7 linked regions of the Homo sapiens genome follow. The protein of the gene in region 6 purifies or fractionates together with the protein of the main gene of each other region. This does not show direct contact. Each region holds a gene or a part of one and is shown on either strand. Other genes may lie near its edges. The genes, in order: AGPAT2, PLXNB2, ATP8A1, COX15, CA2, SLC37A2 and ADCY3.

Region 1 (2,407 bases), on a different chromosome or scaffold from region 6:
CGTCTCCAACCACCAGAGCATCCTGGACATGATGGGTAGGCCGGGCCTCGGGGGTGGCTTCTGGGGTTTGAGTGGGGCCGGCTGAGCTGGGGCTGTGTGGGGCTGGGTCCCGGGGACGAGGACACAGGGCTGCCTGTGCCTGGGCGAGCTCGGCCTCAGTACCTCCCTCAGGGCCAGACACAGAGGCTCGGAGGCCACACGACCCGTCCAGGTAGCCAGGGAGAAGGCAGGGTGCCAGGCAGGCCTGTGGGTGCTCAGCAGCTGTCTTCCAGCGCACGCTGTCTCCCCCTCTCTCTCTGTCTCTGTCTCTCTGTCTCCCAGGCCTCATGGAGGTCCTTCCGGAGCGCTGCGTGCAGATCGCCAAGCGGGAGCTGCTCTTCCTGGGGCCCGTGGGCCTCATCATGTACCTCGGGGGCGTCTTCTTCATCAACCGGCAGCGCTCTAGCACTGCCATGACAGTGATGGCCGACCTGGGCGAGCGCATGGTCAGGGAGAACGTGAGTGTGCAGGGCCGGGCTCGGTGGGGTTGGGGTGGGGCCTGGGCGGGGCCAGGCAGGGGCCAGCTTGTGACTTGGTTTTGGCAGAAAAAACAAGACCCCCACATCATCCATGCTCCGCAGGTGGGGTCCCACGCCAGACCCCTACATCATCCATGCTCCGCAGATGGGGTCCCATGCCAGCTGCTTTGCGAAGTGGGGCTTCTTAGGAGGCGAGGCGGCGTGGCCTTTCTGGGGTGGCCTGGGCGTGAGGTCAGTCCAGGCTCTCCTCTCCCTGCAGCTCAAAGTGTGGATCTATCCCGAGGGTACTCGCAACGACAATGGGGACCTGCTGCCTTTTAAGAAGGGCGCCTTCTACCTGGCAGTCCAGGCACAGGTAGGCTGAGCCCAGCCCTCCCTGGGTGGGTGCAGGCTGGGGAGGCGGGGTCAGGCTGGCTTAAGGCAGCAGGTGACCACCAGCCGAGCTGAGGACCCTTGACACACAAGGGACTCCTCCCACTGAGTTGGGGACAGGGCCTCCTTGCCCCTTCCTGCACTTGCCCCCTGACCGACCAGGGAGGGCAGCCCCTTGGGCCTTTTGCCCACACAGAGCCCAGAGTGACCAGCTGCCCTTGGTGGGCACCCAGTGCTTGGCCTGCGAGGCTGGGCAGGTAGAGGGGTGGGGAGCCGGGCCGCTCGCCTCTGCTGCAGAGCTCTCAGGAGGCTCATTTCTGGGCCTGTGCCTGGCTGGGGTGGGCTTCAGGGCATGGGCAGTGGGTCTGGACAAGCCAGGCTTTTGGTGTAGTATCAGGCCAGACCAGAGCTCAGGGTGGGTGGAGCTCATTGTAAGCAGCGCCTCCAGACTCTGGACTTCCTGGTCCCCAGCCTCCAGGGGTGCAGTGCATCCTAGGGTGTCTGGGAGAGGCCAGGGTATAGCCATTCCCCCAGCACCTGTCCTGCCTCTGCCGCTGTGCTGGGAAGAGTTGCGTCAGGAGAAGGAGCTTTTACCCATCTGGGTGGGGTCTCGCTCAGGGCAGGGGTCTCAGCTCCTTCCCTCACACTGGCCACTAGTGGCCCCCAGTGCCTGGCCCTGTGCAAGGTGGTGGGGAGGGGGCCCTCCTTCCAGAGGCTCCCAGCTAAGGCCGTGAGGCCTGGGGAGCCCCGGAGGCGCTGGGCTGGGTGAGCATCCTTGGGCTCTGATCCCAGCCCTGCCCAGGTGCGGGGCACACCTGCCCAGCCTGGGGCTGATGTCACTTCCCTTTGGGGGCAGAGTGAGGGCTGGATCAGCTCTGGGAGAGCAGAGGGGAGACGGGCGGCTGTGATGGGGTGGCTGGGGGTGGCCGCAGTGCAGCTTCAGCCAGGAGACCCACAGCTTTTCCGTCCCTGCTCCCGGTCCCCAGCCTACCTGCTGGCCCCCTCCCTCCCTGCTGCCAGTCCCCAGCCTACCTGCTGGCCCCCTCCCTCCCTGCTCCCAGTCCCCAGCCTACCTGCTGGCCTCCTCCCTCCCTGCTGCCAGTCCCCAGCCTACCTGCTGGCCTCCTCCCTTCCTGCTGCCAGTCCCCAGCCTACCTGCTGGCCCCCTCCCTCCCTGCTCCCAGTCCCCAGCCTACCTGCTGGCCCCCTCCCTTCCTGCTGCCAGTCCCCAGCCTACCTGCTGGCCCCCTGGAGGTTCCCTGGCTGCCTCGGGTTAATGATCACCCCCAAGTGCCCTTGGATTTGACCCCGGTGACTTCCAGGAACACCAGCAGGCTCCACCCCTCCCCCGGGCTAGGGCTGCCTCCCTCACTGGCTTCCTGAGATGGAGAGGACTGGGAGAGAGGCGTGGGCAGGGAAGAGTGCCATAATCTCCTCCTAAACCGGACAGGGCCCTGCCCCCCTGGCTAGCTGCAGACCCAATATGGGGACAGGTGTGAACCAGGCAAACACGTGCT
Region 2 (3,500 bases), on a different chromosome or scaffold from region 6:
CCGGAACTGCTCCTTTCAGCCGGAACGTTACTCCGTGTCCACCCGGTGAGTGGACGGCCCTGGTCTGGGCCCTGTCAGCTGGGTCAGTACCCACGCTGGGGTTCCGGGTGACTGGGTGGGTGGGGAGGCTGAGGGGGTGAGGGTGTCAGGGTGTGGGGTGGGTCGGGGAGTGCCTGGGCCACACTGCCTGTCGCCCGCCAGGATCGTGTGTGTGATCGAGGCTGCGGAGACGCCTTTCACGGGGGGTGTCGAGGTGGACGTCTTCGGGAAACTGGGCCGTTCGCCTCCCAATGTCCAGTTCACCTTCCAAGTAAGCACCCGGCCTCGGGGACCTGCCGAACCCGGGAGGACCGGGAGGAGGGGCTCTGCCCGCCGCCTCCCCACGACAGTTACCATCCAGCCCAGGACCGAGGGCGTCCTGTGCCCCGTCCTCACCCGAGTGCCCCTGCGGCTCTTTCAGCAGCCCAAGCCTCTCAGTGTGGAGCCGCAGCAGGGACCGCAGGCGGGCGGCACCACACTGACCATCCACGGCACCCACCTGGACACGGGCTCCCAGGAGGACGTGCGGGTGACCCTCAACGGCGTCCCGTGTAAAGTGTGGGTGTCACCGCCAGCTGCTGAGTCTGGTTGGCCCTGGCCCTGGGTATGGAGGGGGGCACTTACTGAGACCTGAGTGGCCCTGAGGGGATGGCGGGGCCAGCCTGGTCGGGCTGGGGCTGGTCCCGGGGGAGGGGTTGATGCAGACCAGCACCCTCCCTCCCCCAGGACGAAGTTTGGGGCGCAGCTCCAGTGTGTCACTGGCCCCCAGGCGACACGGGGCCAGATGCTTCTGGAGGTCTCCTACGGGGGGTCCCCCGTGCCCAACCCCGGCATCTTCTTCACCTACCGCGAAAACCCCGTACTGCGAGCCTTCGAGCCGCTACGAAGCTTTGCCAGGTGAGGCTGGTGTCCCCCCGCCCCCCTCTGCTCCCCACACCCAGCTGCCTCCTCAGTGCCCTTGGCTGACTGTGCTGAAAGGAATGTGGTGGGGCTGGTCTGTGCAGCGGGAGGCGGCCTCCGGAAAACCCCACTGCACTCCAGATCCACTTCCTCCTAGAAACCCAGATGGGCACACCAGAGGCTCCACGCTCACCAGGCCCCGTGTGCCCCCCGCCCACTTGCGGCACAGTCTCGTGCTCAGCACGTCCCACCGCGTTGCCCCTTTGCCCACCGAGACCCACACATGCACCTGGAAGCCCCGTGTGGTCAGGGCCAGGGTGGGCGGGGACGGGAGGGCGGAGGCTGCAGGGACCACCCCTGCCAGCCGAGCCCACGAAGGCACTGCCCTCCGCAGTGGTGGCCGCAGCATCAACGTCACGGGTCAGGGCTTCAGCCTGATCCAGAGGTTTGCCATGGTGGTCATCGCGGAGCCCCTGCAGTCCTGGCAGCCGCCGCGGGAGGCTGAATCCCTGCAGCCCATGACGGTCAGTCCTGGCGTGGGCTCAGCTCTGGCACCGGCCCATGGGATCGTGCCCAGGAAGGGCGGGGTCTGCGCCCGGGGGCTGACAGCTGGGACTTGCCTGCAGGTGGTGGGTACAGACTACGTGTTCCACAATGACACCAAGGTCGTCTTCCTGTCCCCGGCTGTGCCTGAGGAGCCAGAGGCCTACAACCTCACGGTGCTGATCGAGATGGACGGGCACCGTGCCCTGCTCAGAACAGAGGCCGGGGCCTTCGAGTACGTGCCTGACCCCACCTTTGAGAACTTCACAGGTGGCGTCAAGAAGCAGGTCAACAAGCTCATCCACGCCCGGGTGAGGACGGTGCAGCCCCGGGTGTCTGGGTCCTGCTCGGGTCTGGGCTGAGAGCTGGTCCACCTGTCCCTGGTTCCCTCCTCCTCACCCCGACCACTGCCGCCTCCCCAGGGCACCAATCTGAACAAGGCGATGACGCTGCAGGAGGCCGAGGCCTTCGTGGGTGCCGAGCGCTGCACCATGAAGACGCTGACGGAGACCGACCTGTACTGTGAGCCCCCGGAGGTGCAGCCCCCGCCCAAGCGGCGGCAGAAACGAGACACCACACACAACCTGCCCGAGTTCATTGTGCGTGAGCGGGGACTGGCGGGGGGTGCCCCCACGGGACCGCGCTGAACCCGGCCCCCCACACAGGTGAAGTTCGGCTCTCGCGAGTGGGTGCTGGGCCGCGTGGAGTACGACACACGGGTGAGCGACGTGCCGCTCAGCCTCATCTTGCCGCTGGTCATCGTGCCCATGGTGGTCGTCATCGCGGTGTCTGTCTACTGCTACTGGTGAGCCCGCCCCCCGGCTGTGCCAACACCCTGAGCCCTCGGCCCTCCCGCCTCGGCCCCTCTGGCCTCATCCGCCGCCCTGCACAGGCAGGCGTGTAGATCCACCTCCTCATCCGGGCAGCTGAGCGGCCAGCCCCGGCAGAACCTAGGAGGCCCGCTGTGCCTTGCAGGAGGAAGAGCCAGCAGGCCGAACGAGAGTATGAGAAGATCAAGTCCCAGCTGGAGGGCCTGGAGGAGAGCGTGCGGGACCGCTGCAAGAAGGAATTCACAGGTAGGGACCGCTTGGGGGCTGGTGCTGGGGCGCCTCCTGGGGCGGGGATGCTGTGTGTAGCGTGGGGGTCAGGGCCCCACGTGGCCAGGGACGTCTCACGCCAGCCTCCCCCCAGACCTGATGATCGAGATGGAGGACCAGACCAACGACGTGCACGAGGCCGGCATCCCCGTGCTGGACTACAAGACCTACACCGACCGCGTCTTCTTCCTGCCCTCCAAGGACGGCGACAAGGACGTGATGATCACCGGCAAGCTGGACATCCCTGAGCCGCGGCGGCCGGTGGTGGAGCAGGCCCTCTACCAGTTCTCCAACCTGCTGAACAGCAAGTCTTTCCTCATCAATGTGAGCCAGGCGTCGGGCGGGCGGGAGGGCACACAGGTGGCGCCGGGCAGGCTTTGACCGCCGGCCCCTACAGTTCATCCACACCCTGGAGAACCAGCGGGAGTTCTCGGCCCGCGCCAAGGTCTACTTCGCGTCCCTGCTGACGGTGGCGCTGCACGGGAAACTGGAGTACTACACGGACATCATGCACACGCTCTTCCTGGAGCTCCTGGAGCAGTACGTGGTGGCCAAGAACCCCAAGCTGATGCTGCGCAGGTGCACATGGGCGGGGCCACGAGCGGGGCCACGGGCGGGGCGGCCGCAGGGGCTCTGGGGCTGGTGGCGGGTGGCACAGCGGCCTGTTGGGCCCCCAGGAGCCGGCAGGTGCCAGCCAGCGCTGGTGGTGGGGGGCGGTCTAGGGGTGGTGTCCCCGGCCACAAACTCAAAGCCGGACTCTAGCCCTTCCTGTCCAGCGGTTTCAGCTGGTCACAGTGTCAGCCCTCTGCAGAACAGAAGGAAGGTGGCACACTTCCCACAAGGGCTGGAGCTGCCACCAGGTAGTCCTCGCTGCAGGCCACACCCAGGCTGGACAGGGGCGAGGCTGGCGCAAGGGTGGCC
Region 3 (3,500 bases), on a different chromosome or scaffold from region 6:
ATTCCAGGTAGGCCGTGATAGAACTTTACAAGGCAGAAATAAACATCAAGATTTACAGCAATAGCCATGCATTGGCCTGGATCACTTTAAATATGAACTCATGCAAACCATAAACCTATCAAAAACACAGCTGTTCTCATACAGAAAGTAAATCAAGACGAAATATGGAAAACATTTATTTCCTTTCCTTCAAAATTTAACTTACATTCCACTTTAATAGCTGTTGAAGGTTAATTAAAATGCAGCAAAGTATAACTACGTTACACAAGTGACTTCAGTTATTTTAATGTGAGAAAAATCAGACTATGGTATCTTACGAGTCATTATAGAAATGTTCATCATTAAAAAGCATTTATTAGGCACTGAACTGCATGATGTTACCTTAAGTCATTTACAAAAGAATTCCTGGTCCATGTGATGTGAATGGGCTGGGCACTTTCTCCATAAATTTTGTAGATGACTATTTGTAAGATTATACACTTAATAGGTTTTAAAACCAGGAACTATCAAAGGGCAACTGCACAAAAATAAACACGATTATTTAGCTTTGTAGTAATTATGACATTGTCATAATTTTAAAACTATGAATAATACAATCTATTACTTTCTGACTAGCATTCATTTCCCGAGAAAACATTTTAAATGACAAGTTGTAAGTGTTGTACAGTGCACGCAATGCAAAACAAATTATCATGTGACTTTCACATTGGATATTTAGAATGCTGAACGGCAAAATTAAAGTATAAAATTTAATGATCAGAATGCTGACTGATTTCCATAATTCATTTCCCCTCTGGAAATTAAAGAGGAATCACTGATTCCATTTAATGACCATACAATTCATGTAAATGGCTAACATTATTTAGCAGAATACACATTCACCTGACTTGATTAGAAAAAGTTTTCCATTAACTTAGCAACACTGCTGAAGCAGTCTCACATTAGAGCACAGAGTGGAGGTGGGAGGACGGGAAGTACATATATCATTTAAAATTTACAACGTTCCTGAGAAACACTGTTTTCCTAATAATATCTACAATATAACATCTTTCTGGGTGTGAGACACCAATATATTTTTATATGTATATATAAAACATTTAGAAAGTCCATGCTCAATACCACTGTATACTATTCAACATTAAAGAAGCAACTTCCAGCTTTTCAATGCTAAATGAATGAGGATTTTCTATTATAAGTCGTATTGTCTGAATTGTAAACATTGTAAAGCAACTGTGTTAGCATTTGCCAGAGTCCCTATAAGGAACTTTTTAATTGAAGAGTACGTGCCCTTTATTTCAAAAAAACACATGTTAAAAGTCACATTGACTGTTTATTTCAATCCTGGTAAAACCATGTGACTTTTTTCCAGTTAAGGAAGGTTTAAAAAATCAGACTATTTTCTCTAATTTAACACTGTAAAGTCACTGCAATTGCAATGTTATATTTTAAGTTTCACCAAGAAGGTCATTCCCTGTCCCTCAAACCCCAAGTCTCACCCAGGAAGCAAAGAGACTGACAATGTCAATAATTCAAAAACAGGACGATGGGACAAAGAGGCTCAAATTAGTCACATTTCAGATCATGTTACACATTATCAACCGTAAGTATTCTTCTCATGTTTAAGAGCTCCACAGAAACAATCCACGTTTCAAGATTAAAATAAAACTTACATTTTTAAGTCAGAAAATCCAGTTCTATTATATCCATAATGTTTTTATATTAAAATTCTGCAGAAGGGTGCCACTGATGAAGTGAGCGCAAACAGAAGCAGCTCTTCTCTATTAACAGAATTAAACACTACAAAGTGTTTCTCTGGAGGGGTGCATTTCACTCTTGCTTTCTTATTTTTTGTGGTTTGACCTCAGCTATCACCACTGGGAAGCCCAGGAAAAGCTGCTCTGAATATTCATTCACTGGACAGGTAAAGACTGGGACTTCAGAATTTTGAAGACGATCTTAGACTCTTACACCTGTGGTCTTGCTAGATGTGTTGATTCATGACTCTCTCAATCTGTACCCCAAACAGGAAGGGCTTGGGAAGTAAAGTATGTAAACGTGTGTTCCCTTAAGGTTAGAATTATGTATATGTGTTATAACCTCTTATTTGTAGAAAATGGAGAGGCATACTGGTAACTAAGGAGCTACAAATACAGACAAGGAAATGACATATATCCTAATTTTAAATCTAGATTGAGAAAAAGGGTGAAAAGAATGTGAAAATATTAAACTCGAGAAGCGATCTGAAAAAAAATCACCTCTTCTCAATTCTAGTTGACTTTTTTTAAAAGAGAAAGTTCTACCTATTTTGCTGGTAAGTCCATGTAAAGGCAAGCAGGCTTTTGAGTAAAAGGCAAATAGTTTGCTTCAATCTCTGAAGTGTATCTGAAAACTAATTCCTTTTTTTCAAATGAAAGTATTATTTAAAAAATAGTGTAGAAAACTGGTTGTGGTTTTTAAACAGCCCCTTCATTTACTGTTGGTAGCAAAATAGCCATTTTCAGATGTCTTGTAAATGCTGAAAATAATTGAACTGAAGATACATTTTAAAACATACTAACAAAAGCTACTCATGATGAACGTGTCCTCTGACTGTAAAGTTACCGGCCTGAGTAAAATCCGCATTTTTTAAATGGGGAAAATGTACTACCTATTTGTCCCAATAAGCAGCATGTGACGAATTTTGGGAACTATTTGATGAGTGAACTGTGAAATAATTTTCAGTCTTCAGTATAGGGGGCAGTCACCATAACACTGGGTGTGCTACACAAGACACAGGCATCTCTAGTGGGAACTGGAACACAGGACAAAAGCCCATGCATTTATCTGACATGTTATTCCAAATATTGCAACAGAAGCTTTGGAAATCCCACGTAAATACGTAGCATATGTTTCTTAAGAGGAAAAACTTTAAGACAAAATGACATCACTCAATCTACTGCATTAGCCAGATTTTTAGAAAAATCTAAATGATGATGAAACTTCATCAGAAATACCTGAAACATACATAGTTTGAAAAATCAGTGTCATAACAACAGAGTCACATTAACACGTGTGTCCTCTAACAAATAAACACGACAAACAACAAAGAAGCATTTGTAAGGCCAAAGGTGCAACATCACCGATTTTAGTAGCAAATGCCTTGAAATATTCATTTTTGTAAATCACTCTTACATTTGGAAAGTCAGGCATGCAGATCTTACAGCGGAACTGGAAGTAAACTTTCTCTTACATTTCTGGGCATATGACTACTGAACTAGAAAAACACTTACTGAACCTCTTTGGCAAACATTTATCAAGACAATTTTGGACACAAATGCTTGTTTAGAAATTTTGCTCAGGAAGGTGAGTCAGTTCCTTAAGAATGCTGGTTTGTTTCAGCATATCCTGAAATCTAAGTCTGGATACCAAGAGTCCCTTTAACTAAATATCATTTAGAGTTTTTTAATGGTTGGTTACCTTGTGGTACAGCCAATAAACTGACAGTCAGTTACAGCCCCACA
Region 4 (2,380 bases), on a different chromosome or scaffold from region 6:
TCTCCATCAGCCTGACCCCAGTGAGCATTTGATTTGGTCTACCCTACTCTTGCCTTCTACAGAACTAAAACTAACTTCCTGCAACTTTCATCCATTGCTGCCAGCTCTGCAGCATAATGGAAGCTCATTCCCTCTTCTGCATGAGACGGCTTCAACTTCTCAAGGACAGGAATCTTGCTCTCTCTCCAGATGTTCTCTGCTCCAGTTAAATATCCCTAGTTCCTTCACCTATTCCCTGTGTGACAGGGGTTCTGGACTCATCATTCTGATCTCTTCTTCTGGATACACACTTAGTGGCCATCAATATCTTGCTTAAATTTGGTACCCAGAGTGAAATGCAGTATGTTAGGGGTATTTTGACTATGGCTGTGACACTTCTACTGATAAAACCTGAAGTACCACTAATTTTTCTGTTATCATATAATAACAACATGAATACTACTTGGTTCATATTGAACCTGAGGACAACTAAAATCCCGTCTTTTTTATATGAAATGATATAAGGCCAGGTTTCTTCAGCCCAAACTTATACAACTTATTTAATTTAAATGAGTATGTTACATTTCTAATCTGTTTAATTTCATCTCGATGGGGTCATTCTGGGACTGTTTTCAGTTGCCACTGTCATCTATTATATTAGCAATATTGGGTTGCTCCATCCTCAAATCAGATGTTTCTGATGCCTTCATCCAAATCACTGATTTTAAAAGTAAAGTTGAATAAGACAGGGCCCTATGAAATATCAATAGAGACCAAAATCACATTAATTCAGCAGTCAACAATTTGTTTATCTGGGTAGATGTCCATGCACTACACCATCAAGGCCATATTTTTCTTATTACAAAGCTGTTAGGAAACCCTCTCAGGAACCAATTTATACTGTCGATTCCATTCCTCTCTCTGACCTTGTAATGTTAACAGCCTTATCAAAAGAGGAACTAGCTGGGCGTGGTGGCCCATGCCTGTAATCTCAGCACTTTGGGAAGCCGAGATGGGCGGATTACCTGAGGTCAGGAGTTCAAGACCAGCCCGGCCAATGTGGTGAAACCCCTTCTCTACTAAAAATACAAAATTAGCCAGGCATGGTGACTTGTGCCTGTAGTCCCAGCTACTCGGGAGGCTGAGGCATGAGAATCGCTTGAACCTGGGAAGTGGAGGTTGCAGAGTGAGCTGAGATCACGCCATTGTACTCCAGCCTGGGCAACAAGAGTGAAACTCTGTCTCAAAAAAAAAAAAAAAAATGGAACTATTTGGCGATTACCTCCTTTTCCAAGTACTTAAAAACCATTTTGCTACATATACACATTAAGCTTGTCAAAATCTGCAATTTCCCCATTTCTGAAAATCAGGATATTAGAAGACATTAGCTTTTTTTTTTTTGCTGAAGACCAGCTGGCTACTTTGGGTATGTCAATCCTATCCTTTCAATCTTCACCTAATGGAAGTGAAGTTAAGATCATAAAGAAATTCTATTTAGGCAGAATTAAGGACTCAGGAGAACATCCACGTAGAAATCATCCACGTAGAACCAAGAGCTTGCCAACACTGAAAAACCTGACACAAAGCCTGTTAAGCAGCAAATGGCAGACATTTCTTTCTCTACATTAAAACTGATTTTCAACATGAAAAGCAGATTTAAAAGGGAACATTTAGGGTAACCACACTTAATGCATTCTTGATCCAGTGACTATCTCAAAACAGGAAAAGATTTTTAAGTAAGTTGACCATTTGGAAACCACTTGGTATGTCAAGGTCATCTCGTAGAAAAGCCCAAGTTCTTATGATCTCTGAAGAGCTCTCAAAAGCAGTCACAGTCCCAGGAGGCTGGTCCTCTAAGAATCATTTTGGGACTCTTCGGAGTTCATTCATCAGCCAAAGAGCACCAGTGAGCAAAGCCAAGGAGCCTGACTGGTGAGTGGCGGCCAGAGGAGTTGGGACATACATCAGCAGCGTGCTGATGCCCAAGCCCACCTGTCACAAAGGAAAGAAGGCAATAGGAAAGGCAGTAACCCAAAGTTCACATTGAAAATGGCCAGGCGTGGATAACCACACACAAACCTCCACATCCTCCTATCAGAGCACTTAAAATACACACATTTTTAATTTCACAAGCAAATATGCTTACAATGAAAGAAATTCGAACAAAATTGATAAACCTAAAATTCCCCTTATTCTTCAATCCATCCCAGTTCCCCAGAGTAGTCACTGTTACCAGTTTCTGCATACTTGTACTTTAGTATGTTTATAGAGAAATAAATATATAGTTTTGTGCTTTTAAAAAACATATTGTTCTGTCACTTGCTTTTTTTCACTTAGCAATATACACTATGTATTGAGATCTTATTAAACTGCTGTGCAGTATCGCACAGTATGGATATAC
Region 5 (3,500 bases), on a different chromosome or scaffold from region 6:
TCCAACTCCACCATTTGCAAAAAGTAAACGGACTCAAACTGGAGGATCCTGTTTTAACAGAAATTTAGAAATAAAATGTGTGCCTTCTGTCAAAACTGTACATTTATTTGTCTTAGAGTTATTGATGAAAACACTTGCTGTTATACCAAGTACTGTGTGGATGATTAGAATTAAAATGAAAGGAAAATTTTGATTTAAAATTATCCATATTTTCAATTTCCTGAGTAACCTTTATTGTGAGAAAAAGACCATTGAATAAAATCTGTCAGCTTTGATTATGTAAATCACTCACTGTGGCTTTGTCTCTTCGGCCTTAGCTTCACTTGGTTCACTGGAACACCAAATATGGGGATTTTGGGAAAGCTGTGCAGCAACCTGATGGACTGGCCGTTCTAGGTATTTTTTTGAAGGTTAGTTGATGACCCAATTCTTTTTTTTCCCTATTTTTAATAAAGAATGACCAGACAGAGTATTTGTAACATACAGGACATTCTACAAAAGAGCTTAGGAAATGCCTTTGTCCCTGAAATGTTTTCAAGTTTATCTCCTCCTTTCATATCTGCTAGTTGCAGTGGAGATGGAGGGCAGAAAGACAATAGGAGAGGTACTTATTTGGTACCTTTTGGATGTAAATGTGAAGAACATAAAGAGATCAACTTGGGTGACTGCTAGGTGTTTGTTTGTTTTCTTTTCATTTAACCTGAGGCTAGACAGTACTATATTATGATAAAGTAAGATCAGGTTCTGAAGAGGGGAAGGACAGTGAATTTCAGGCAACAGTGGGACAGAACCGGTTGAGCTGCCCTCTAAACAGTGGTAAAGGGGAATGGAGAAAGGTCTGGGCTGGAGATTTATGAGCTCTGATTCATATGTTGAGGTGGAAGCTACAGGTGTGTATGAAATCATCCAAGTACAGCACGAAGAGGGAGATGAGAAATCTGCCCAGGGAGCAATCCTGAGAAACTGCAAAATGTAAGGCCTTTACAAGGGGAGAGATGCAAATTAAACAACTTAAAAGGGGCCAGGTGTGGTGGCTTAAGCCTGTAATCCCAGCACCTTGGGACACCAAGGCAGGAGGATAGTTTGAGGCCAGGAGCTCAAGACCAGCCTGGGCAACATAGCACAATTCCATCTCTACAAAATTTTTTTAAAAATTAGCTGGGCATAAAAAACAAACTAACAAACAAAAAAACAAAACAAAAACAAAAACACAAAATTAGCTGGGCATGGTGGTATACACCTGTAGTTTCAGCTACTTGGGAAGCCAGGGCAGGAAAATCACTGCAGCCTAGGGGTTGAGGTTGCAGTGAGCTATGATCATGCCACTGCACTACAAGCTGGATGACAGAGCAAGACTCTGACTCTAAAAAAAAAAAAAAAAAAAAAAAAAGCGAGAGTCAAGAGAGATTTGGGTTGCTGGAAGGCGTAGGGAAAGCCAAAGAAGAAAATAATTTTTAAAAAGAAGGGAAGACCATAGTGTAAAGTCCTACAAGGAAATCAAGGCAAGCCCTTGAGGAGTATCCTTTGGCAGTTAGAGGTCACTGGGGACAATTGAGCTGGTGGTTTCAGGACTACTCTCTGAGTGGAATTAGAGGCGAGTTGAAGATTCAGTGAAAGTAGGCAAGTCTATGGTGTCAGTGTCATCAAGCCAGTACTGATGGGGGTCATGTATGAAGTGGAGAATTTGGGCTCACTATTTGGATGTTTTCTAATAGAGCTACCCAAATAAAAATAAAAACTGGTACAGTACCAACTGGGTGATAGTATCTTGCCCTTTATGTTTTTCTTTAGGTTGGCAGCGCTAAACCGGGCCTTCAGAAAGTTGTTGATGTGCTGGATTCCATTAAAACAAAGGTAAATTTGAATTTTCTGCCACCTCCTTAGGGTACCAATTTTCAATACTCCATTGGTTTTAGAAATTTCTTTTGATCAAATTGCACAGTCTCAATGACATGTGGTGTTTGGATGAGCAGTTAGTAAAGGTAGAATATTACTTAAATATTTAATTAACGTTTCTTTCAACAAAGTTGATCCTAATGCTAGCATAATTCTAAGACTTGTATTTATTTAATCTTGCTCCCCCATCATTTGGACATCCATATGTAAGAGTCAGAGAATCTTATGCCTGCAAGGAGGTTCAAAGGTCCTCTAGTCAAATTATTCACTCATTCATACAGCAGATATTTGTTAAGTATGTACTATGTGCCAGTCGCTTTGCAAACTAGTAGACACAATGGTGAACAAGATAAACAAGGCCCTGTTTCATGGAGATTTCTATTCTATGACCTCTTTGCATTCATCCATCCTGCATTTAAATCCTCTCTGCAGCATAGTTGTGTTGAGGTCGTTGAGCATCTGTTTAAACACTACAGTCACTTCCGGTGATGGGGAACTTATCACCAGGGGCAGCCCTGGCTTTATAAAGCTGATCTTCACATTGAAGCAGCATCTATCCTCTGAAATGCTCACTCACTGGCTTGAGCCCCTTGAATTCATAGAATAAACCTGATCTCTCTTCCAAATAACTCTACTCTGTCTCTACTTTGTTTTTTCACCTACCCCAAACTAATTATCTTTAGTTTCCTTTAACTATTCTCATATGATATAGTTTTCTCTCTTTGCCACCACCTTGTCATTCTTCCAGTAAATCATTCCTGTTTGCTTGAAAAGTGTAGTGTCCAAAACAGAATGTAGTTATTTGATTCTGACCTAGAGCAAGAAAATCACCTCCTCATCAGGATACCATATTTCTGTTATTGCAACTTGAAGTCACCTCATTTTAGTGGCAGCAGTCTCACTTTAAATACTGGGTGTGATCAGCTAATGACTTAATGGGGAATGTAAGGGATCATTTTAGATAAAAGGCCAAGATGAAAAATGGACATGTGAAAATAGTTTTTTTTTTTTTTTACTACGACTTGCCACATATTTTCAAGTTGAATGTCTTCTGTTAATTTCTCTTTATTTTGTTTGCCAGTGAATATAGAACCTCTTTTTTAAAAAGTGTTTTTGACCATCAGAGGGGAGTATACCTATTTGTGTCTGCTGCTCTCCTACCTTCCTCCTACTCTGTCAATGTGATAGTTTGAAGCTGCGTATTTGCCTTGTTCTAGGGCAAGAGTGCTGACTTCACTAACTTCGATCCTCGTGGCCTCCTTCCTGAATCCTTGGATTACTGGACCTACCCAGGCTCACTGACCACCCCTCCTCTTCTGGAATGTGTGACCTGGATTGTGCTCAAGGAACCCATCAGCGTCAGCAGCGAGCAGGTTTGTTTTGTAATGACAGGTCTGTTTACGGGTGGAGCATTTAGTCAAGGCAGAAGACCTTGGCCTCCAGAGTGAGAGAGAACTGAGATTTAATCCTTCTCCTGCTACTTCTTGCTATGGAAATAGTGCCTTTGATGGTGCCTAGCAAATAAACAGCGTTCAGTAAATCTTTGTTGTTATTAACTATAAACTTAGTTCGTTTAGTCTCTAAAATTGAATAGTCATTGTAAG
Region 6 (3,500 bases):
TACAGGTATGTGGTCAGACCTGGGGTTTGGGGCAAACATCCTGGAGTGTCACAGCTAGAAGCCCTGCAGAGCGTGATCCAGACCACTGCCCCCTTTTCCGAGGAAGAGCTGGGGACCTGTGGAGCAGGCTGGCCAGGGCCACAGGGTGAGAATGCAGCAGTTTGGATAGACGCCCTCTTGGTCCCGTCCTGTGTTGCCCTCTTCCCCTGCAGGATGACCTTCACCTCTCAGAACAAGCCCTCCCTGGCAAGCTCTGGGATCTGGCCCCCGAGCCTGCTGTCCCGTGGCCACCTTTCCCCTGGAGCGCAACCTGAAGCTCAGCCCAGCCCTTTCTCTGCTTCACTCCGGCCCTAGCAGCACTAGGAACTCTTCCCGTTTACCTTAGGCTGTGCTCATACACAGAGCCAGGAAGGAGACTTGCAGGGACACAGGGGCCTCAGGTCACAGGCCTTGGCTCCATGTTTTAAAAAAGGAATGTCCAGAAGCTGAGATTGTAGCCCCACCCTCGAGGGTGCCTCATACTCTGAAGTCAGCACCAAGGCCACAAAACAAAGAGTCACGGTGTCCACAAAGCTGCCCTAGTGCTCCACACTGTCACGAGAGAGGCCCCGACAGAGCTGCGGGGCAAGCTATGGCTTGAACTTGGCCATGACTAATTCCTACAGTATCCTGTTCAGAGCGAGCACAATGTGTGGCAAGGCACTGTTGTTCCTCCCCAGGGCTGGGAGGGAGGGCAGCAGTACTGGGTGACAGGCCCTCAGCCCTGGTGGAGCTTGGAGGCTCCTGGGGGCTGGGCAGGGCGGGGTGGGCTGCTGTTTGGTAGAGCAGCCTGACCTATGGAAAAGCAGAGACCCAGGCCAGGTGGACATGAAACATCCTTTTTCAAATGAGCTCTTCTCATCTATACATCCCTGGGCAGGAGCAGACGGGAGTAGGTCCATGAGACAGGACAGAACACCAGTGCAGCCCAGCAGATCCAGGCACAGGGGCATCGATCACATTAGGTCCCACGGGGAGAAGACCACCAGGGTCACCACCAGGCTACAAGGAGTGGGGTCACTCACCAGGCCCTCTTCCTTGGGCTGGGGGAGAGATCTAGCAGGCAGGCCTTCCCTAGCACCTCCAATGCTACCACCTATGAGCCAAGCAGCCTGGAGGGGGTTTCTCCTACACTAAGGGCTAGAGAAGAAGATAGCAAGAATTGCAGAACAGAGCTCTGAGTTCCTAACCCCCAGCTCAGTTCCAAGGGGAGAAAAGGTGGCTGGAGTCAGGGTCTAGGGGGTAGTTTGCTGGGTTTAGCTTTCATTTAAGTAAACAACTAAATCAAGCTCCTTTCACTCTAGGAGAGGTTCAGCAGGAATTCTGCCTATATACTGGAATCACAGGCATCACCACGACGGGCTTCCTCTCCCACCAGAGGCAGCCTTGGCCTCCTCAGAGACCCCTTCATTCCCCTTCTCTTGGACTTACCCACATTGGCGATGTAGAGGGGCAGCCAGTAGAGGAAGGTGTAACTGACCAGCTTGGCAAACAGCAGACACAGAGAGAACTCGACCACGCCCTGGGGAGTGCAACAGGGGGCACATGGGAAGGGGTCCAGAGGTCCTGGGTTCAGTGGTGGCCCCAAGGGGTGCTCAGCACCACCCCAGTACTTTCCATCACCTGCCACACAAGGCAGCCTCCAACACATCCAGTCCCAATAAAAGCAACATGACCACTGTGCAAGGTTGTTTCAAGACAAATCTCCCACACTGCCCTCCCCAAGCAGGCTGCCCAACTTACACCTCCCCTATAAAGAAGTTCTAGAAAAATAGATCACCCAAGCACCCCATCTCCTCATCACCAACAGAAAAAATCTGGAAAGCCCCTCTCTTTCCTCCATTCCACAAACTTCTTACTGGGATCCGGAGCGCCCCAAAGAAGCTGATGGCAGCAGGCTCTTCGCATGGCCCCTTGGAGCATTTGGCCACAGTCTCAAGGCCGCTCTCCCTGATAGAGCAGGGACTGTTCCCAGGGTCCTCAGGGTTGTCCTGGTTCTCAGCTGGCTCACCCTGAGCAGAGGAGATGAGCCCTGCTGTGGGTGCGTCCATGTGCTGCCTCCCACCAGCTGAAGGTGCAGCCCAGGCAAGAGACACTGGCTCCCAGGATGGGGAGGCACACGTTCGTCTCGGGCTGGACTGACCTGCCAGACTCATCAGGCTGTAGGGCCAACCCATGGGCCTAGCACTGGGTCGGTGAGGTCAGTGAGGGCCAGAACTCCCTGCTCTAGCTCCCCAGGCCTCTCCGGGTCCAGCCCTCTGGATGGAGTTGGAGGGCAGGGATAGGGCTGGGAGGGCTCACACTCACGTGGTGCTGAGGAGGGGCGCAGTCCACATCTTCTGGGTCTAGAAAAAAAAATCGCTTTCTAAGAAGTTTCCCAACCCCCGCCCCCCCAATCCCGAGGTGATTGCCAGGCCCTCACCTTGCACTGGATCTAAGCCATCCCGGGAACCAGCCCCGCCTCCAGCTCCTAAGGTGGCCAGTGTGTGTCCCAGCAGGAGGGAGCGGGGCCTGGGGCTCAGGAGACAGCTTTCTAGGCCTGGCTTTCCTAACAACCAGCAGTGTCACTACTGCCTCTTGGACTTTAGTACTCTTAGCTACAGAGTGGCTCTCATACCTGGCCTGGCTAGTGCACAAGACCACCTGCAGCAAGTGGAGAGCCTGGTCACTGTAACAATGTCCCTTCAACTCCACCCTCCCTGATCACACCTCTCAGATTCAACCAATGCTTGCCAAGCACCTCCTGTGGGCCTGGCATTTTAACTATGGTGTCTCAGTTAAGCCTGCAGAAATCCTACGAAATAGACATTATTATTACTATTATTATTTTACAAATGAGAAAATAAAGGCTCTGAAAGATTGTCCAAAGTCACACGGCTGGTCCTCCCACTCTGTGACCAGCAATCTTTCCAGTAGATCCAGCTGCCTTCTCCCAGAAACCGAGAACTTCTAGGCTCACTTGTGGGGAGTGAGGGGCCCACTCACGTTCGATGAGGAAGAGGAAGGTGATGACGCCCATGACGGCAGTAATGATGCCAGGCACGATGAACGACAGGCCCCACTGCCCGTTCACCCAGATGCCGGCGATCAGGGAGCCCAGGATGTTGCCCACAGATGTGTGGGAATTCCAGATGCCCATGATGAACCCCCGCCTGGAAGGGAGGGAGAGAAGGGAAGAGGTATAAAAAGTAAAAAGCAAAGCACATTGTTCATAGCAACTGCCCCAGCCAAGCTCTAAAGCTGGGCTGACTACAGCTTCCCCGAGGCACCAAAGACAGCCCCAAAGCCCCAAGTCAGCAAGGAGTGGGAGACCTTGGATGGTGTCAAGCAGGTGGCTGCAGGGCCTGTGGTCTCGCTCCGCCTGCCCAGCTCCCTGAGTGAGTGCCGATGGGAGCTCTAGCCACACTGAGGGCATGGGGGCCCCGGCCCTCGTTCTTCTCTTCTGTCCCACGATCTCACTC
Region 7 (3,500 bases), on a different chromosome or scaffold from region 6:
TGAGCTCTAGGGCTGGGGTGGCAGGAAGCAGCACCATCTAGTTGGAGGGAATCAGGCCCCCTCCAGGAGGCAGATGACAGCCCTTTCAGTTGCACACGCTCTGCCCAGCAGGCTGCCCCTGGTGCCTTCCAAGTACTCTATGACGGTGATGGTGTTCCTCATGATGCTCAGCTTCTACTACTTCTCCCGCCACGTGAGTGCCGCCTGCACGATCCCCGCTCTGTGCCCACAGCCCACAGGGCCTCCTGAGAAGCAGCCCTGGGACCTAAGAGCCCAAGCTCCTAAGGAATGGGGCTTCCCTTCACCCAGCCCCACACGTGAGCCTGGTCAGGCCACCGCCTTCTCTATTCAGGCTCCTTCCTCAGTCACACAGGAAGACAGTTCCTCACCTCTTCCGTCCGACCCCCTCCAGGATGGTGAAGGAAGCATGGGAGTGAAGGTGGGAGGGGATAGAGTGAAGGCACAAACATCTTGAATCAAATCAATATCCCCTAGGCCAGGGGCTCATGGCCCCCGCACTCCCCGTGGCGCTGAGGGACATTAACACAACTGACCACAGAGCCAGAAGAGAAAGAGAAGGGAGCTGATGGACTTTCTGTTGGGTTAAAAGGAAAAGAGAAGGCCGGTGCAGTGGCTCATTTTGGGAGGCTGAGGGTGGAGGATCACTTGAGTCCAGGAGTCTGAGACCAGCCTGGGCAATATGGTGAAACCCTGTCTCTACTAAAAAATACAAAAATTAGCCAGGCATGGTGGCCCGCACCTGTAATCCCAGCTACTTGAGAGGCTGAGGCAGGAGGATTGCTTGAATCTAGGAGGTTGAGGCTGTAGTAAGCTGAGATCACACCACTGCACTCCAGCCTGGGTGACAAAGTGAGACACCCCCCCCGCACCCCCCCCCCCCCCGCCACAACCACCGCACTCAACCGGACAAAAAAGGAAAAGAGAAGGAAGAGAGGGAAGAGAAAGATCCTCTGTACTTAGGGCCCAATGTTAGTTCAAGTGCCCCCTACTGGCTTTCCAGGGAAGTACAGCCTTCCCAAGCCACTTCTTACCCAAATGGCGCCTGCTAGAAAGGGGGACTCCACCCTGAGTTGGGAGATCCCCACTGCTGCCACCTCCACGAGACAGACCTGCAGCTGAAATTAGGTCCCAAGAGGCCCCCTACACACGGAAGGCCTCCTGGATCTCTGCTGTAATTACGGAGGCTGGGAACCGCACCACTATTGGGTGGCCTTTTGATGAGGTGCAATCTTTGCAGGGTCTTACTTCCCTTGCCATTTAGCCATCTTCCTTCCAGCCTTTCCAAGGGGAGTTCCTCCATTCACGTTCCTGTTTTTCTTCTTTTTTTGAGACTGAGTCTCACTCTTTTGCCCAGGCTGGAGTGCAGTGGTGCGATCTCGGCTCACTGCAACCTCTGCCTCCTGGGTTCAAGTTGATTCTCCTGCCTCAGCCTCCCGAGTAGCTGGGATTACAGGTGCCCGCCACCATGCCCGGCTAATTTTTGTATTTTTAGTAGAGACAGGGTTTCACCATGTTGGTCAGGCTGGTCTCGAACTCCTGACCTCAGGTGATCCGCCTGCCTCGGCCTCCCAAAGTGCTGGGATTACAGGCATGAACCGCCACGCCTGGCCATTCCTGTTTTTCATCCTTCTATCCAGTGGCCAGCTTAGAGCACATGCCTCGCCTTGTCTGTGTCTGTAGGTAGAAAAACTGGCACGGACACTTTTCTTGTGGAAGATTGAGGTCCACGACCAGAAGGAACGTGTCTATGAGATGCGACGCTGGAACGAGGCCTTGGTCACCAACATGTTGCCTGAGCACGTGGCACGCCATTTCCTGGGGTCCAAGAAGAGAGATGAGGTGAGGGGTGTGGTCTCAGCCCGGAACCATGAGGCCATTTGTCTCCATCTGTTCTTTCTTTCAGGCAGCCCCCGCTGGGCCCAGGCCTTCTCAGGGACAGGGGACTGGGGCCTAGGTAGGGCTGAACCTAAACAGCAAACACAAATAAGCAAAAGAGGAATTTCTCCGGCCTCTTATAAAGTGCACTGCTGTAGGCATCGTGATGTGGGCCGTACAGCTCTGAGGCCATGTGTCAGAAGACAAGACTTTGGCTAGAGCCCACCTTTCTGTTGCCTGTGAACTTCTCCAAACAGAGTGGTTCCCAGCTCTACGGTACCCTCGTCTTCACAGCTGGGGCTGTTAGAGGAACTAGAGAAGCTGTTTTAAAATTTATTCAAAGTAGTGGCCGGGCACAGTGGCTCATGCCTGTAATCCCGGCACTTTGGGAGGCCGAGGCGGGTGGATCATCTGAGGTCAGGAGTTTGAGACCAGCCTGGGCAACAAATAGTGAAACCCTGTCTCTACTAAAAAATACAAAAATTAACTGGACGCGGTGGTGCACACCTGTCGTCCCAGCTACTCGGGAAACTGAGACAGGAGACTCACTTGAACCCGGGAGGTGGAGGTTGCAGTGAGCTGAGATTGTGCCACTCAACTCCAGCCTGGGTGACACAGCAAGACTCCATCTCTCAAAAAAAAAAAAAAAAAGTAGCGATGAGCTATTTTTAAATTATTCAGAGTTGGAATAATCTACAGCCGGGCATGGTGACATGTGTCTGTGGTCCCAGATACCTGGTGTTCAAGGCCGCAGTGTGCTTCGATCATACCTAATTGTGCTTGTTTACTGCCACTGCACTCCAGCCTGGGAAACACAGCAAGACCCACTCTTAAAAAAAAAAAAAAAAATGCTGGAATAATCTGACTGATGTGTGAGTCCAAAAAGCTGAGTGCACATGTCATGCATGGAAGATAGATGCATTTCTCCAACACATCATCCAGTCAGTCGGACATGCTTTGAGCACGTTGTCCGCACCTCTTTTTAGGAGCTGTATAGCCAGACGTATGATGAGATTGGAGTCATGTTTGCCTCCCTGCCCAACTTTGCTGACTTCTACACAGAGGAGAGCATCAACAATGGTGGTATTGAGTGTCTGCGTTTCCTCAATGAAATCATCTCAGATTTTGACTCTGTGAGTGCCCATCCCACCCTGCACTCTGGCCATGAAGCCGGCCCATTCCACATCACATCCTACAATAGGCTGCAGAGGCCAGAGAAACTGGCTTCATTTTCCCAGATAAGCCCCTTCCGCAATACATGGACTTCTGCAGCCACCTGGAACTGCTGGGCTGGGGAAGGGGAGGTGAGGTGGGAGCCCGGGAAATCACCCACAGGGTCACAGGATAAGGATAAGGACTGGCCAAGCAACATCTCGAGACCTCTCTGTCCTGGGACTGTCTCCTCAAATTCAGAGCCGGTCAGCATTGACTGGGTGACCTGTATACCAGGGAGAATGCTTTTACACACGCGCGGAGCCCCCCTAGGAGACTGCCGATTTTATGTCAGTGTTGAGGTTGTGGAAACAGGCCCAGAAAGTTAGGAAGTTCTCCCAGGATCATGTGGCAGATAAGCGGTAGACTAAGTAACAACTTTGATAGGAAAG

What was found.
Region 1: the proteins of SLC37A2 (region 6) and AGPAT2 purify together in Homo sapiens (affinity purification with mass spectrometry; one large-scale study listed by BioGRID and IntAct). This does not show direct contact.
Region 2: the proteins of SLC37A2 (region 6) and PLXNB2 purify together in Homo sapiens (affinity purification with mass spectrometry; one large-scale study listed by BioGRID and IntAct). This does not show direct contact.
Region 3: the proteins of SLC37A2 (region 6) and ATP8A1 purify together in Homo sapiens (affinity purification with mass spectrometry; one large-scale study listed by BioGRID and IntAct). This does not show direct contact.
Region 4: the proteins of SLC37A2 (region 6) and COX15 purify together in Homo sapiens (affinity purification with mass spectrometry; one large-scale study listed by BioGRID and IntAct). This does not show direct contact.
Region 5: the proteins of SLC37A2 (region 6) and CA2 purify together in Homo sapiens (affinity purification with mass spectrometry; one large-scale study listed by BioGRID and IntAct). This does not show direct contact.
Region 7: the proteins of SLC37A2 (region 6) and ADCY3 purify together in Homo sapiens (affinity purification with mass spectrometry; one large-scale study listed by BioGRID and IntAct). This does not show direct contact.

What each region holds. Positions count from the first base shown.
Region 1 is NC_000009.12:136,675,051-136,677,457, reverse strand, and holds part of AGPAT2 (1-acyl-sn-glycerol-3-phosphate acyltransferase beta), read left to right. Parts: coding exon 1-35; intron 36-321; coding exon 322-497; intron 498-777; coding exon 778-873; intron 874-2,407. UniProt on the Homo sapiens protein: Converts 1-acyl-sn-glycerol-3-phosphate (lysophosphatidic acid or LPA) into 1,2-diacyl-sn-glycerol-3-phosphate (phosphatidic acid or PA) by incorporating an acyl moiety at the sn-2 position of the glycerol backbone.
Region 2 is NC_000022.11:50,280,147-50,283,646, reverse strand, and holds part of PLXNB2 (plexin-B2 isoform 3 precursor), read left to right. Parts: coding exon 1-45; intron 46-201; coding exon 202-310; intron 311-460; coding exon 461-597; coding exon of another isoform or gene 598-643; intron 644-765; coding exon 766-936; intron 937-1,096; coding exon of another isoform or gene 1,097-1,333; coding exon 1,334-1,463; intron 1,464-1,565; coding exon 1,566-1,793; intron 1,794-1,904; coding exon 1,905-2,081; intron 2,082-2,147; coding exon 2,148-2,287; intron 2,288-2,457; coding exon 2,458-2,558; intron 2,559-2,673; coding exon 2,674-2,903; intron 2,904-2,976; coding exon 2,977-3,158; intron 3,159-3,500.
Region 3 is NC_000004.12:42,409,106-42,412,605, forward strand, and holds part of ATP8A1 (phospholipid-transporting ATPase IA), read right to left. Parts: 3' UTR 1-3,500. UniProt on the Homo sapiens protein: Catalytic component of a P4-ATPase flippase complex which catalyzes the hydrolysis of ATP coupled to the transport of aminophospholipids from the outer to the inner leaflet of various membranes and ensures the maintenance of asymmetric distribution of phospholipids.
Region 4 is NC_000010.11:99,712,748-99,715,127, forward strand, and holds part of COX15 (heme A synthase COX15), read right to left. Parts: intron 1,972-2,380; coding exon 1,840-1,971; 3' UTR 1,218-1,839; coding exon of another isoform or gene 1,059-1,217; 3' UTR 733-1,058; coding exon of another isoform or gene 667-732; 3' UTR 1-666. UniProt on the Homo sapiens protein: Catalyzes the second reaction in the biosynthesis of heme A, a prosthetic group of mitochondrial cytochrome c oxidase (CcO). Heme A is synthesized from heme B by two sequential enzymatic reactions catalyzed by heme O synthase (HOS) and heme A synthase (HAS).
Region 5 is NC_000008.11:85,474,007-85,477,506, forward strand, and holds part of CA2 (carbonic anhydrase 2), read left to right. Parts: intron 1-317; coding exon 318-410; intron 411-1,791; coding exon 1,792-1,854; intron 1,855-3,113; coding exon 3,114-3,269; intron 3,270-3,500. UniProt on the Homo sapiens protein: Catalyzes the reversible hydration of carbon dioxide. Can also hydrate cyanamide to urea. Stimulates the chloride-bicarbonate exchange activity of SLC26A6. Essential for bone resorption and osteoclast differentiation.
Region 6 is NC_000011.10:125,080,305-125,083,804, reverse strand, and holds part of SLC37A2 (glucose-6-phosphate exchanger SLC37A2), read right to left. Parts: intron 3,192-3,500; coding exon 3,025-3,191; intron 2,385-3,024; coding exon 2,347-2,384; intron 2,052-2,346; coding exon 1,899-2,051; intron 1,562-1,898; coding exon 1,471-1,561; intron 1-1,470. UniProt on the Homo sapiens protein: Inorganic phosphate and glucose-6-phosphate antiporter. May transport cytoplasmic glucose-6-phosphate into the lumen of the endoplasmic reticulum and translocate inorganic phosphate into the opposite direction. Independent of a lumenal glucose-6-phosphatase.
Region 7 is NC_000002.12:24,822,738-24,826,237, reverse strand, and holds part of ADCY3 (adenylate cyclase type 3), read left to right. Parts: intron 1-108; coding exon of another isoform or gene 109-111; coding exon 112-193; intron 194-1,701; coding exon 1,702-1,860; intron 1,861-2,882; coding exon 2,883-3,029; intron 3,030-3,500.